3 linked regions of the Homo sapiens genome follow. The protein of the gene in region 1 interacts with the protein of each later gene in a pairwise test. Each region holds a gene or a part of one and is shown in the gene's direction. Other genes may lie near its edges.

Region 1 (3,650 bases):
GAAGAATTAGAAATAGAACTGTTAGTGATAAATTCACTTAGGTTTTGTTTTTCTGAACATGTTTTTAAGGCTCATTCTTGAAGGACATTTTTGCTGGATACAGAATGCTAGGTTGGTAGTTCTGTTCTTTTAGCACTTTAAAAATAGTTCACTGCAGTCTTGATTCTGTTGTTGCTGCTAAAAAGTCAGCTGTCAATCTTATTACACCTTTGAAGTTTTTTTTTCTGTCCTTGGTTTTCAGTAGTTTGACTGATGTACTTAGGTAACATTTTCTTTTTCTTTGTAATCTTCATTGGGTTTTGTAGATTTTTAATGTGAGGGTTGGTACTGTGTCAGTTTCGGAAAATATTCAGTCATTATTTCTTTAAATACCACTTCTCCTGAGTTATGTCTCTTCCCTCAAAGGTTCCAGTTAACACTTACATTAGACCCTTTCACTTTATTCTGTTTTTTTGCTCAATTCTTTTTCAATCCATTTGTTTTTCCATACTTCATTCTGCGTATTTTCTTCTGACCTAGCTTTTTAGGTTATTAATTTTTTTCTTCAGCTGTGACTATTCTATGCCTAATTTCTTAATCTTGCCATTTAATTTCTTGACTTTATTAAGAATAGTTATTTCTAAGCTAAAAATATGAAAATCTTATTTGAGTCTTTTGGCTCTGTTTCTATTGTCTACTTTTTTGTGTTTAGCCGTAATTTTCATCTTGATGCCTGGTTGTTTTGGACATTGTGTATCAAAATTTTGTCCATGTTGTATACCAAAAAAAAAAAAGTCGTCATGATAATTTGAGGTTCTTCATGATTTTATATTTCTCCAGGAGAATATTTTTACAGTTAGGCTAGGGCGGATCATCCAGTCAGTGGCTGAGATGACTCTAACGTAGACTTCAGCCGTTGTAAAGATTGGTCTATTTTTGTTTTGTTCTTATTCTCAGATTGTAGCCTTTCAGAGTCCTTGATAAGAGCATAGGTGTTTTTCAGGACCTCTTCTCCTAAGCAGACTTTGGACATTAATTTTTGCTTAGCTTTATTGCCCTTGCTGTTTTCTCTTTCAGAATCAGTCATTGTCTTGAGGATAGAGCAGTGCCAGATGTCTGGTCTGCCTCTTTCCTTCCTTCTTCCAGATTTTGGCCCTACTAATTCTCACTGCCTTGATATCTTACCAGTGTCTTCAAACACATATTTATATTTTTTTACATTTTGTTCAGTTTTTCTGATTGCACTTGGTTGTACTAAAAGAACCTAGTCAGCCATTCCAGAAATACATGAAGTTGTTTTGTTTTTATTATTGTAGTGGTGATTGTTGGTTTGTACTTTTGCTTTCACAAACTATTTCAAAGCAATTTTGATTTTTAGGGTTATATTTCCCAGACCTCTACTTTCACTGCCCATTGCCCTCTGCTGTTAGTGGTGATTAGGTGAAGAGTTTGAGAAATGTAATGGAAAGGGCGTGGGTTTTTTTTTTTTGTTTTTTTTTTTTTGAGACAGAGTCTTGCTCTGTCACCCAGGCTGTAATACAGTGGCATGATCTCGGTCCTGCAGTCCTGCCTCCCAGGTTCTAGTGATTCTTTTGCCTCAGTCTCCCAGGTAGCTGGGATTACAGGCACGTACCACAACGCCTGGCTAATTTTTGTATTTTTAGTAGAGATGGGGTTTCACCATGTTGGCCAGGCTGGTCTTGAACTCCTGACCTCAGGTGATCCACCCGCCTTGGCCTCCCAAAGTGCTAGGATTACAGGCGTGAGCCACCACGCCCAGCCGGGCATGGGCTTTTTAAGCACACAGACCTACATTCAAACTGTGGCTCCTTCTGATTGTGTCAGCCTATATGAATTAATTACCTGTTTAAAATTACCTTTTTAAAATTTCTCTTTCCTCATCTGCAGACGGGTTTAGTGAGAATGAAAAAGGACATTGAAATTAAATTTTATTTAAAATGAAATAATGTATGGACAGCTTCTGGTATATAATAAATGCTTAGTAAACTTATTTTTTTAATTATCTTGAGGAATAGGAAACTAGAGTTAAGACCAATCTTTTAAGGAATTTAATAGAAGTTTATAACTTCACCATATAGTAATTGTTAACAAAAGCTTAAAAAGGGCGTTTATGTCAATGTTTGGTTGTGGGGCAGTTCAACAGGCATCTGTGTCCCAGGTACCCTACTTAATCTCGTTAATATTATAGATTCCATCCAAAATCTAGATCTTGCAGTATAGAGCAGAGGTCAGCAAACTTTTTCTTTTTTTTTTCTGAGATAGTTTCACTCTTTTGCCCAGGCTGGAGTTGAGTGGTGCAGTCTTGGCACACTGCAACCTCCGCCTTCTGAGTTCAAGTGATTCTCCCACCTTATTCTTACCAATTCTTCCCAAGTATTCACCTTATTCTTCCCAAGTAGCTGTGACTGCAGGCATATGCCACCATGCCCAGCTAATTTTTTACCATGTTGTCCAGGCTGGTCTCAAGCTCCTGACTTCAAGTGATCCACCCGCCTTGGCCTCCCAGAGTGCTGGGATTACAGGCATGAGCCACTGTGCCTAGCCAGCAAACTTTTTCTATAAAGGGCTAGGTACGGTTTTGTGAGACATATTGCCTCTATTGTAGCTATTCACTCTGCTGTTTTAGGGCAAAAGTAGCCGCAGTCAGTATATAAATGAATGGGCATGGGTGTGTTCAAATAAAACTCTATTTACAAAAACAGGTAGCAGGCCAGGTTTGGTCCATGGGTCCTCAAACTGTGCTGACCCTAGTCCTCCACAAGCTACAAGTGTTTTTTTACGTTTATAAAGGATTGTTTAAGAAGAAGATGCAACAGAAACCACATGAGACCCAAAAAGCCAAAAATATTTTATTTCTAGTTCTTTACAGAAAGGGTTTGCTAACTTTTGGGTTGGAGAAGGGGTGGTGGTTGCTACCAGAGAAAAAGAAGTAGACTTCCGTACTCAGAGTTAACAGCAAAGAAAGAAAAACAACACGACAGGAAGCCCTGGATCCACAAAGGATCCTGGTGGGAAGAATAGGAAATTCTGTGTGCAATACTGACATACTCATCCATACCCCACCCCAACTGTGACTGTCCTACTAATTAATCTGGTTTTATGGATTTTCCATAATGTGCTGTTTTAGCAGCAAATAGAGGGGTAAACTCATAGATAATAGCTAAATACTGTTAGAAATTAACTTTCCGTTATAGCTAAATGTTACCAGAATTTTTACTCCGGTTATGTATACAGCTTTGATTTTATAACATCCTGCTAATTTTTGTTCTTACAGAAATACACTTTCGGGAAATGGCCTCTAAATCCTGGCTGAATTTTTTAACCTTCCTCTGTGGATCAGCAATAGGATTTCTTTTATGTTCTCAGCTATTTAGTATTTTGTTGGGAGAAAAGGTTGACACCCAGCCTAATGTTCTTCATAATGATCCTCATGCAAGGCATTCAGATGATAATGGACAGAATCATCTAGAAGGACAAATGAACTTCAATGCAGATTCTAGCCAACATAAAGGTATGGTTTACTTTATTAAGCAGTAAACATAAGCAGTATTTTAGTCTAAATTTTGTCATATTCCTGTCTGTATCTGTTAATTAAAATGGGCTATATATTCCAGATATTAAAAATAATTCTTGGTTTGCCTCAAGAGAAG
Region 2 (3,650 bases), on another chromosome or scaffold:
AAAGAGGGAAGAAGGGGTTTTTGTTGGGGGATTGGGAGGGCAATGGGAATGAGTCTCACAAGCTTCCTGACAGGGGACCCAAGCCACACCACCTGCCCCCTCTAGCTTACAGCTAACTGGTTGTTGGGGCCTCTTCTCTATCTTCTTTTTCCAACAGCTACCAAGTTAGAAGTCTAAATGAAACCTTTCAGTGATGTCCATAATGGAAAACAGAGGCAACTTTATTCCATGAAGAATGAGACCAGGAGTGTATGTTTAGGTGAAGAGGGGTAGAGGAAGGGGAGAAAGTATCCATGGAACAGAGGAAGACCCTCGTTAGAGCATAATGGAGCCAAGTCTGAGGTCCAAACTTGATCTTGCCACTCATTAGATCTGTAACTCTGGATAGAGCAATAAATAAACACAACAGCGCTGGTCAAGTTTTCATATCCTTAAAATGGAGGTATAGATTCTTTTCCATGAGAAAGTCTGAGAGTGCAGGAGGATGATGTATGTGGCCAATAGTGCACTCTGAATAAATGCATTTCATGTGAAAACTCTTTGAACCTTGCTCCCACCTGACCCATCTGGAGTCCTGATGACTCTTCCTCCTTCCCCATGCAGGTTCCTCTGGCTCACAATATTTTTGGTCTCATTGGCCCCAATGCAGGGCTTGGCCTTGCCATAGGTAAGAAGTGCCCTCAAAGAAAACAATAAGCCCCTGCATGTTGGCTTTGGGTCTGATGCCTTTCCTCCCCCTTTTCTCATCAGAGGAGGTAGGTGCAGAGGCAGAAGGATCAGGAGGGCAGCTGGCAGGGTTGTGGAGAGATGAGCTCGTAATTCCCACCTGGAACAGGTGTTAGTCCGAGGCAGAAGACAGCAGACAAAGCAAATGGACTAAATGGAGGAGGAGAGGCGGGGTGGTACTAACTGTGGGTGGGGCTGACTGTGTCCTGTTTGCTCTGGCCACAGGCATGGTGGATTCTTCTATGATGCCCATCATGGGGCACCTGGTGGATCTACGCCACACCTCGGTGTATGGGAGTGTCTACGCCATCGCTGATGTGGCTTTTTGCATGGGCTTTGCTATAGGTATGTTGGCAGGACCTGGTGCCCCACTTTCCCCTGTCTACTCTTTACCAGCTGGAAGTGCAGCCAGGAAGCTATCCTCCTAGGGTTCTGGAGATCTTTGACGCTGAGACATCCTCTGGGTCACCCACTGCCCCTAGCATAGTGTCCTACGTGGAGGATGCTCCATATGGAGGCTCCATAGACACTTATGACTTTGATGTATCCCTCCCAGGTCCATCCACCGGTGGTGCCATTGTAAAGGCCATCGGTTTTCCCTGGCTCATGGTCATCACTGGGGTCATCAACATCGTCTATGCTCCACTCTGCTACTACCTGCGGAGCCCCCCGGCAAAGGAAGAGAAGCTTGTAAGGAGCACCGACTGTTAAAAGAGAAATTCACTTCTGTTTCTTTCCATCATCTCTCTCATTCCCTTTCATCCTGGGCTGTTATTTCCTCCCTCTATTGCTCTGTTGATACTCTCTCTGCTTTGCCATGTTTCCCAATCCCCTTTCATCTTCATATTTCTTTTGTGCACTTCCTTAATTTCCCTTCTCTAAGTAACCACTTCCCTCTTTCTGGGGCTATCAGGAAGGGTCTTCAGTAGAGAAGGGAAATGGGGGCAGAGGACCATCAAAGACATCCTGTAGTTACTGTTCTTAGCTTGCTAGTTACTAGCAAGATGTGAGTTACCAAGTTAACTCCCTCATAAGTGGGCAGAATTCCATTGGCACATCCGTTCATCCACTCATTCACTCTAGTGCAACATTATCCTTACCAGGTCACTTTTTTTTTTTTTTTTTGATGGAGTTTCACTCTTGTTGCCCAGGGTGGAGTGTAATAGTGTGATCTCGGCTCACCACAACCTCTGCCTCCCGGGTTCAAGAGATTCTCCTGCCTTGGCATCCCAAGTAGCTGGGATTACAGGCATGTACCACCATGTCTGGCTAATTTTTTGTATTTTTAGTAGAGATGGGGTTTATCCATGTTGGTCAGCAGGTCACGTTTTTAAAAGTACAAAAACCCCAGGGAAGAGATCCATACCATAGGATTTTCTTTAATAAAGCACTTTCCTCTTACTGCAGCACAAACATCCTGAGGGCCTGATGGGTTTGGGATACCGACAGAGGCTGCTCAAGGGAACAAAAGAAGACATGAAGGTGTGATAGGGAGTGGTGGTGATTCCATTTGGCTTCCTGCTGTAACTTTCACTACCACTGTTAAATTCAGTTAAAAGCAAATGAGATACTTGTCCTGACAAGGGTTGATATACTAGGTACCCCGGGAGGCTGGTGCATGTACATGCAGAGGGTCCTATGCATGTTTCTTGAGTACTTAGCAATGCCAGCCTTGGAAGAACTAGTGGGAGGACGGAATGAGGAGATTGGTAAAAAAAAGATGTGCGGTGGTTGGCCGGGCGCGGTGGCTCACGCCTGTAATCCCAGCACTTTAGGAGGCTGAGGCGGGCGCATCACGAGGTCAGGAGATCGAGACCATTCTGGCTAACATGGTGAAACCCCGTCTCTGCTAAAAATACAAAAAATTAGCCTGGCGTGGTGATGGGCGCCTGTAGTTCCAGCTACTCTGGAGGCTGAGGCAGGAGAACGGCATGAACCCGGGAGGCGGAGCTTGCAGTGAGCCGAGATTGCGCCACTGCACTCCAGCCTGGGCAACAGAGCGAGACTCCGTCTCAAAAAAAAAAAAATGATAATAATGTGCAGTGGCTTCTCTTCTTGCCTCTCTCTGCAGGCTATTCTGAGTCAGGACTGCCCCATGGAGACCCGGATGTATGCAACCCAGAAGCCCACGAAGGAATTTCCTCTGGGGGAGGACAGTGATGAGGAGCCTGACCATGAGGAGTAGCAGCAGAAGGTGCTCCTTGAATTCATGATGCCTCAGTGACCACCTCTTTCCCTGGGACCAGATCACCATGGCTGAGCCCACGGCTCAGTGGGCTTCACATACCTCTGCCTGGGAATCTTCTTTCCTCCCCTCCCATGGACACTGTCCCTGATACTCTTCTCACCTGTGTAACTTGTAGCTCTTCCTCTATGCCTTGGTGCCGCAGTGGCCCATCTTTTATGGGAAGACAGAGTGATGCACCTTCCCGCTGCTGTGAGGTTGATTAAACTTGAGCTGTGACGGGTTCTGCAAGGGGTGACTCATTGCATAGAGGTGGTAGTGAGTAATGTGCCCCTGAAACCAGTGGGGTGACTGACAAGCCTCTTTAATCTGTTGCCTGATTTTCTCTGGCATAGTCCCAACAGATCGGAAGAGTGTTACCCTCTTTTCCTCAACGTGTTCTTTCCCGGGTTTTCCCAGCCGAGTTGAGAAAATGTTCTCAGCATTGTCTTGCTGCCAAATGCCAGCTTGAAGAGTTTTGTTTTGTTTTTTTTCATTTATTTTTTTTTTTAATAAAGTGAGTGATTTTTCTGTGGCTAAATCTAGAGCTGCTAAAAGGGCTTTACCCTCAGTGAAAAGTGTCTTCTATTTTCATTATCTTTCAGAAACAGGAGCCCATTTCTCTTCTGCTGGAGTTATTGACATTCTCCTGACCTCCCCTGTGTGTTCCTACCTTTTCTGAACCTCTTAGACTCTTAGA
Region 3 (3,750 bases), on another chromosome or scaffold:
AGGAGGTATCTCCATCCAGCCCATCAACCAACTCCAAACCCTGTGCTCATTCTAGACCCTCCCCAACACCTCCTTGCCCTTATTCCCTGTCAATTTGCCTCTCTGTAGGTCTCTGCTTGCCCCGCTCTGTTGGACCTGTCAAGACCCTCTTTGTCTCCTGCCACAGCCTCCCTTCAGCTTTCTCCATCCAACACCAGCCCTGATTTTAGAATATCGCCCTACCTAAAACCCACCAATGAACAAGAATGGCAAATTATTTACCCTTGTGAAGGCTGGGTAATAGGAACATGGAGGATTATTTTATTATTCTCATTACGTTTGTGTATGCTTGAAGTCTTTCATAATAAAACGACTCTCCGACGACCTCCAGGGATCTCAGGGTAAAGTCCGAAGTCTGCAGACTGGCATTCAAGACCCCTCAGGATTTGTCTCTACCCAGTTTAACCAGCTAACCTCCTGGCACTCACCATGCTGCAGCCTGTTTTCCCAGCCTTTGGAACTCAAGTCTCTCTTGCAGCCCTAGTTTTACCCCATGCATCTTCTTTTTACAGAACACATTTCCCCTTGTGCCCTGCCTAGAAAACACCTCCTAATCCCTTGGAAATCTAATGCAAATGATCCCTGGTCTGGGTCACCTTCCCTACCTTCTGGGGGCAGGGAAGAGGGGGCCTCCTCAGTCCTGATATACAACAAATACCCAGTATGTGTTTAGGAGAGACCAGAATGTCTTGGCTAATAGAACGTGTGCAATATTTACTTGAACTTAGGCAAGTAGGGTAATCTTTCTTGGCTTCTGCTTCTGTCTCTATAAAATGAAGATAATAGCGGTACTTATCTCACAAGGCTGGGGTAAAGATTCAGCGGTATTCTCTGTGTAAACAGTTTAACACAGTACCTGGCAGAGAGAGGGGGAGAAAGAGGGAGAGAGGGAGAGATGCTGACTGACTTACAGACAGACATACTTCAATCAAAGAATATAGTGGGTAATTATGTGGCTTGTCTTAAATGAAATGCTTCCAAATCCCACAGGGAAAGCACTGCCGCTTAGCTCTTCCTGGGAGCTAGAGAAATTCGTGGAAAATCGTTGACATTAAAGTCACGATTCCTTTCTCGGGCTCAGGGGCTATTCATACTTTGGAGGGTTTTCAGAAGTCGAGGGGAGTCCCGGGCCCTCCTATTTGGAAGAATCGGAAGGATAGTGCAGGGTCTGTGCCTGGGAGCTGGCCCGAAATCAGGGGGCTAGGAAGGCACGGGGTTTGCACGAAAATCAGCCCCGGTGACAATCCCCAGTCTGTGAGCTCTCGGTGGACTCGGGGCCCCAGGGGTGGGAACCCGGAGTGAGAAAATCTGAGTGGGGTCTGGTGCACGGCCCCCCACCTGCCAGCCCCGCTCCCTGGGCTGCGGCGGCCTCGTGCGTCACGGGCGCAGGCGGGGGCCGAGGGGAGGGCGGCACCGCAAGGTGAGGGCACCGCGCTGCCTTAAGACGCCGCGCGCCCCCGCTGCCTCTCAGAGCTTGCAGCGCGGCGCGCTGGCCGGACGTGCGGGCACAGACGCTGTGCCCCGCTCCTGCCGCGCCCGCAGCGCCCGCTGCCCCGTGCCAGCTCGCAGCCGCCCGAGCCCCGAGAGGCGGCCGGGACGAGCGCGAGGAGCCCCGAAGGACCTGCACGCGGCGCCCGCGACGCCACGTCTGCAGCAGCAACAGGTAAGCAGCCCGGCCCTACTCCGGGCTCCGTGGCCCCCAGCACCCGGCAGGGCCCCGAGCCTGGGAGCCCACGACGCCCCCTCTGAAGCGTCCCGACGGCTGCTGAGCTACCAGGCGCGGTGGCCCGCGGTGCGGCCCCTTCTCGCCTTTCCCTAGCCATCCTCCCGCCCTCGCGTTTTCTCTCTCACTTTTTCTCGTGCGTTCTTTTCCCCCTTCCTCTCCATTCTCTCGTTTTTTCCTCATCCTTTCCCTCTTCCTCTGCTTGTTCTCTTTTCTTATTATTTTTTGCTTTTTCTGTCTGCGTCTCTCCCAGTCTGTCTTGCTCTCTCATTCTCTCTCACTCTCACGCTCCCATTTCTTCTTTTTTCTTTCTTTCTCCCTCTCTGTTGCTCACATTCTCTCTGTCTCTCTGTATGTATCTCATTCTTTCGCTGTCTCTCATTTCCTTTTTGTCTCTCTGCCTCTCAGTCTCTCTCGCCCTGCCTTTCTGACTCTCTCCACCACCCTGCACCCCTGCCTCTTTTGCCTTTCTCCCCAGCTCCTTTCCCACTCCCCTCGGCTGTCACCGACACCAAGCAGATCCGGAGAAAGCAAAGAGGATGCCAAATTGGGAATGGGGATGGGGCTGTGGAGGGTGAGGGTAGGGGAGCTCAATAGGCATCCTCTCTGCATTTTCCAGTCTCCATTGCACTGCTGATAAACTAAGGGTTTTTTAACCAAAGCCCGCGGTGGCCGGGGCGGCAGGTGGTTTCCACGGCAAAATAAAGTCCACAGGGAGACAGAGATCCAAAGAGACAGAGATCCAGCCAGAGAAAAACCAAGGTGAGGGGCCATGGGAAAAAGATGTAGAGAAATAGAGATGCGCACACACTCAAAGATACAAAGCAAGTGTTTAGCCAGAGTCCTGGGGTGACAGGAAAGTGAAGGACAGAGAAACCAACGAGAGAGTGCACACACTAAAGAGATAGCTTGAGAGACAGGTGAGACAAGCAGTAGAGTGTTAGAGATCAATGGAGAGAGAGGCAGAGTAATGCAGAGAGAACTTAGGCAGGGAGAGACAGAAACCACACGGAGAGACACAGAGACAAGAGGGTCCGAGAAAGACAGAGCAAGCGCACACGTGCCAGTGAGAGACAGAAGGAGACACCCAGAGAACCCGAGGGAGACGCAGAAACAAGAGAGTTGGAGAGACACGGAGACGGGCAGAGACACAGCGAACGACATTGAACAGGTGCGCTAGGGACCCACAAAGATGAACTGCTGGGGAAATAGACTGAGAGAGAAATGGAGAGACAAGAGAGCACTAGGGAAAGACGGAGACACACATGAACTAGCGAGCGACACAGTGACAGGCAGAGACACAGAGAGACAGAATGGATCAGAAAGAGACTGAGGGAGAGACGGGCAAGACTGTGAGAAAGATAGGGAGCGAGAGCGCAAGCCCTGCAGAGAAAGTGCGCTAGCGAAAGAGACACACACAGAGAGACTGAGTGACAAACAGAGTGGAAGAGATAAATGAGAGTAACAGGAAAGAGACAGCGTGCACGTGCTATCGAGAGACGGAGAAACAGAGACAGACATAAGTGAGAGACAAGGATGAGAAAGAATCAGGAAACGGTGAGACACATACAGACACACAACCCGAGAGATAAAGAAAAAAAGTGCGCTAGCGAGAGACACTGGAGAAGAGACAGAAACTGACGGTCGTAAACAGACAGAAACAGAGAGCGCACGCGCATGCGCTAGCGCTAGCGACCAAAACTCCCCGGAGCCAGAGACAGTGTGAGAGACAAGCAGAGAAAGCGCACGCACGCACGCGCCAGCAGGAGAAACAGATGAGAGGAAATCAGAGCCCTGGAGAGAGACAGGCAGACAGATCTGGAGAGTCCGGAAAGGAGCCATAGAAGCTGCCCGCACTGGGGATGGAGCCGTGCGGAAACCCGGGGTAGGGGGTCCTGCAGCGTCCTTGCTGGGCGCGGAGGCTTCTCCCCTTGACGGGTGACTAACTCTGCCTGCGTGTTTCTTTTGTCACCAGCATAGGCACTGAG

The links.
Region 2: the proteins of C1GALT1 (region 1) and SLC18A1 interact in a two-hybrid assay, tested with the Homo sapiens proteins (one large-scale study listed by BioGRID).
Region 3: the proteins of C1GALT1 (region 1) and GPR101 interact in a two-hybrid assay, tested with the Homo sapiens proteins (one large-scale study listed by BioGRID).

Annotation. Positions count from the first base shown.
Region 1 is NC_000007.14:7,231,029-7,234,678, forward strand, and holds part of C1GALT1 (glycoprotein-N-acetylgalactosamine 3-beta-galactosyltransferase 1), read left to right. Parts: intron 1-3,274; 5' UTR 3,275-3,291; coding exon 3,292-3,511; intron 3,512-3,533; exon of another isoform or gene 3,534-3,650. UniProt on the Homo sapiens protein: Glycosyltransferase that generates the core 1 O-glycan Gal-beta1-3GalNAc-alpha1-Ser/Thr (T antigen), which is a precursor for many extended O-glycans in glycoproteins.
Region 2 is NC_000008.11:20,145,024-20,148,673, reverse strand, and holds part of SLC18A1 (chromaffin granule amine transporter), read left to right. Parts: intron 1-603; coding exon 604-667; intron 668-951; coding exon 952-1,071; intron 1,072-1,282; coding exon 1,283-1,416; intron 1,417-2,797; coding exon 2,798-2,911; 3' UTR 2,912-3,650.
Region 3 is NC_000023.11:137,031,754-137,035,503, reverse strand, and holds the start of GPR101 (probable G-protein coupled receptor 101), read left to right. Parts: upstream 1-1,508; 5' UTR 1,509-1,702; intron 1,703-3,737; 5' UTR 3,738-3,750. UniProt on the Homo sapiens protein: Orphan receptor.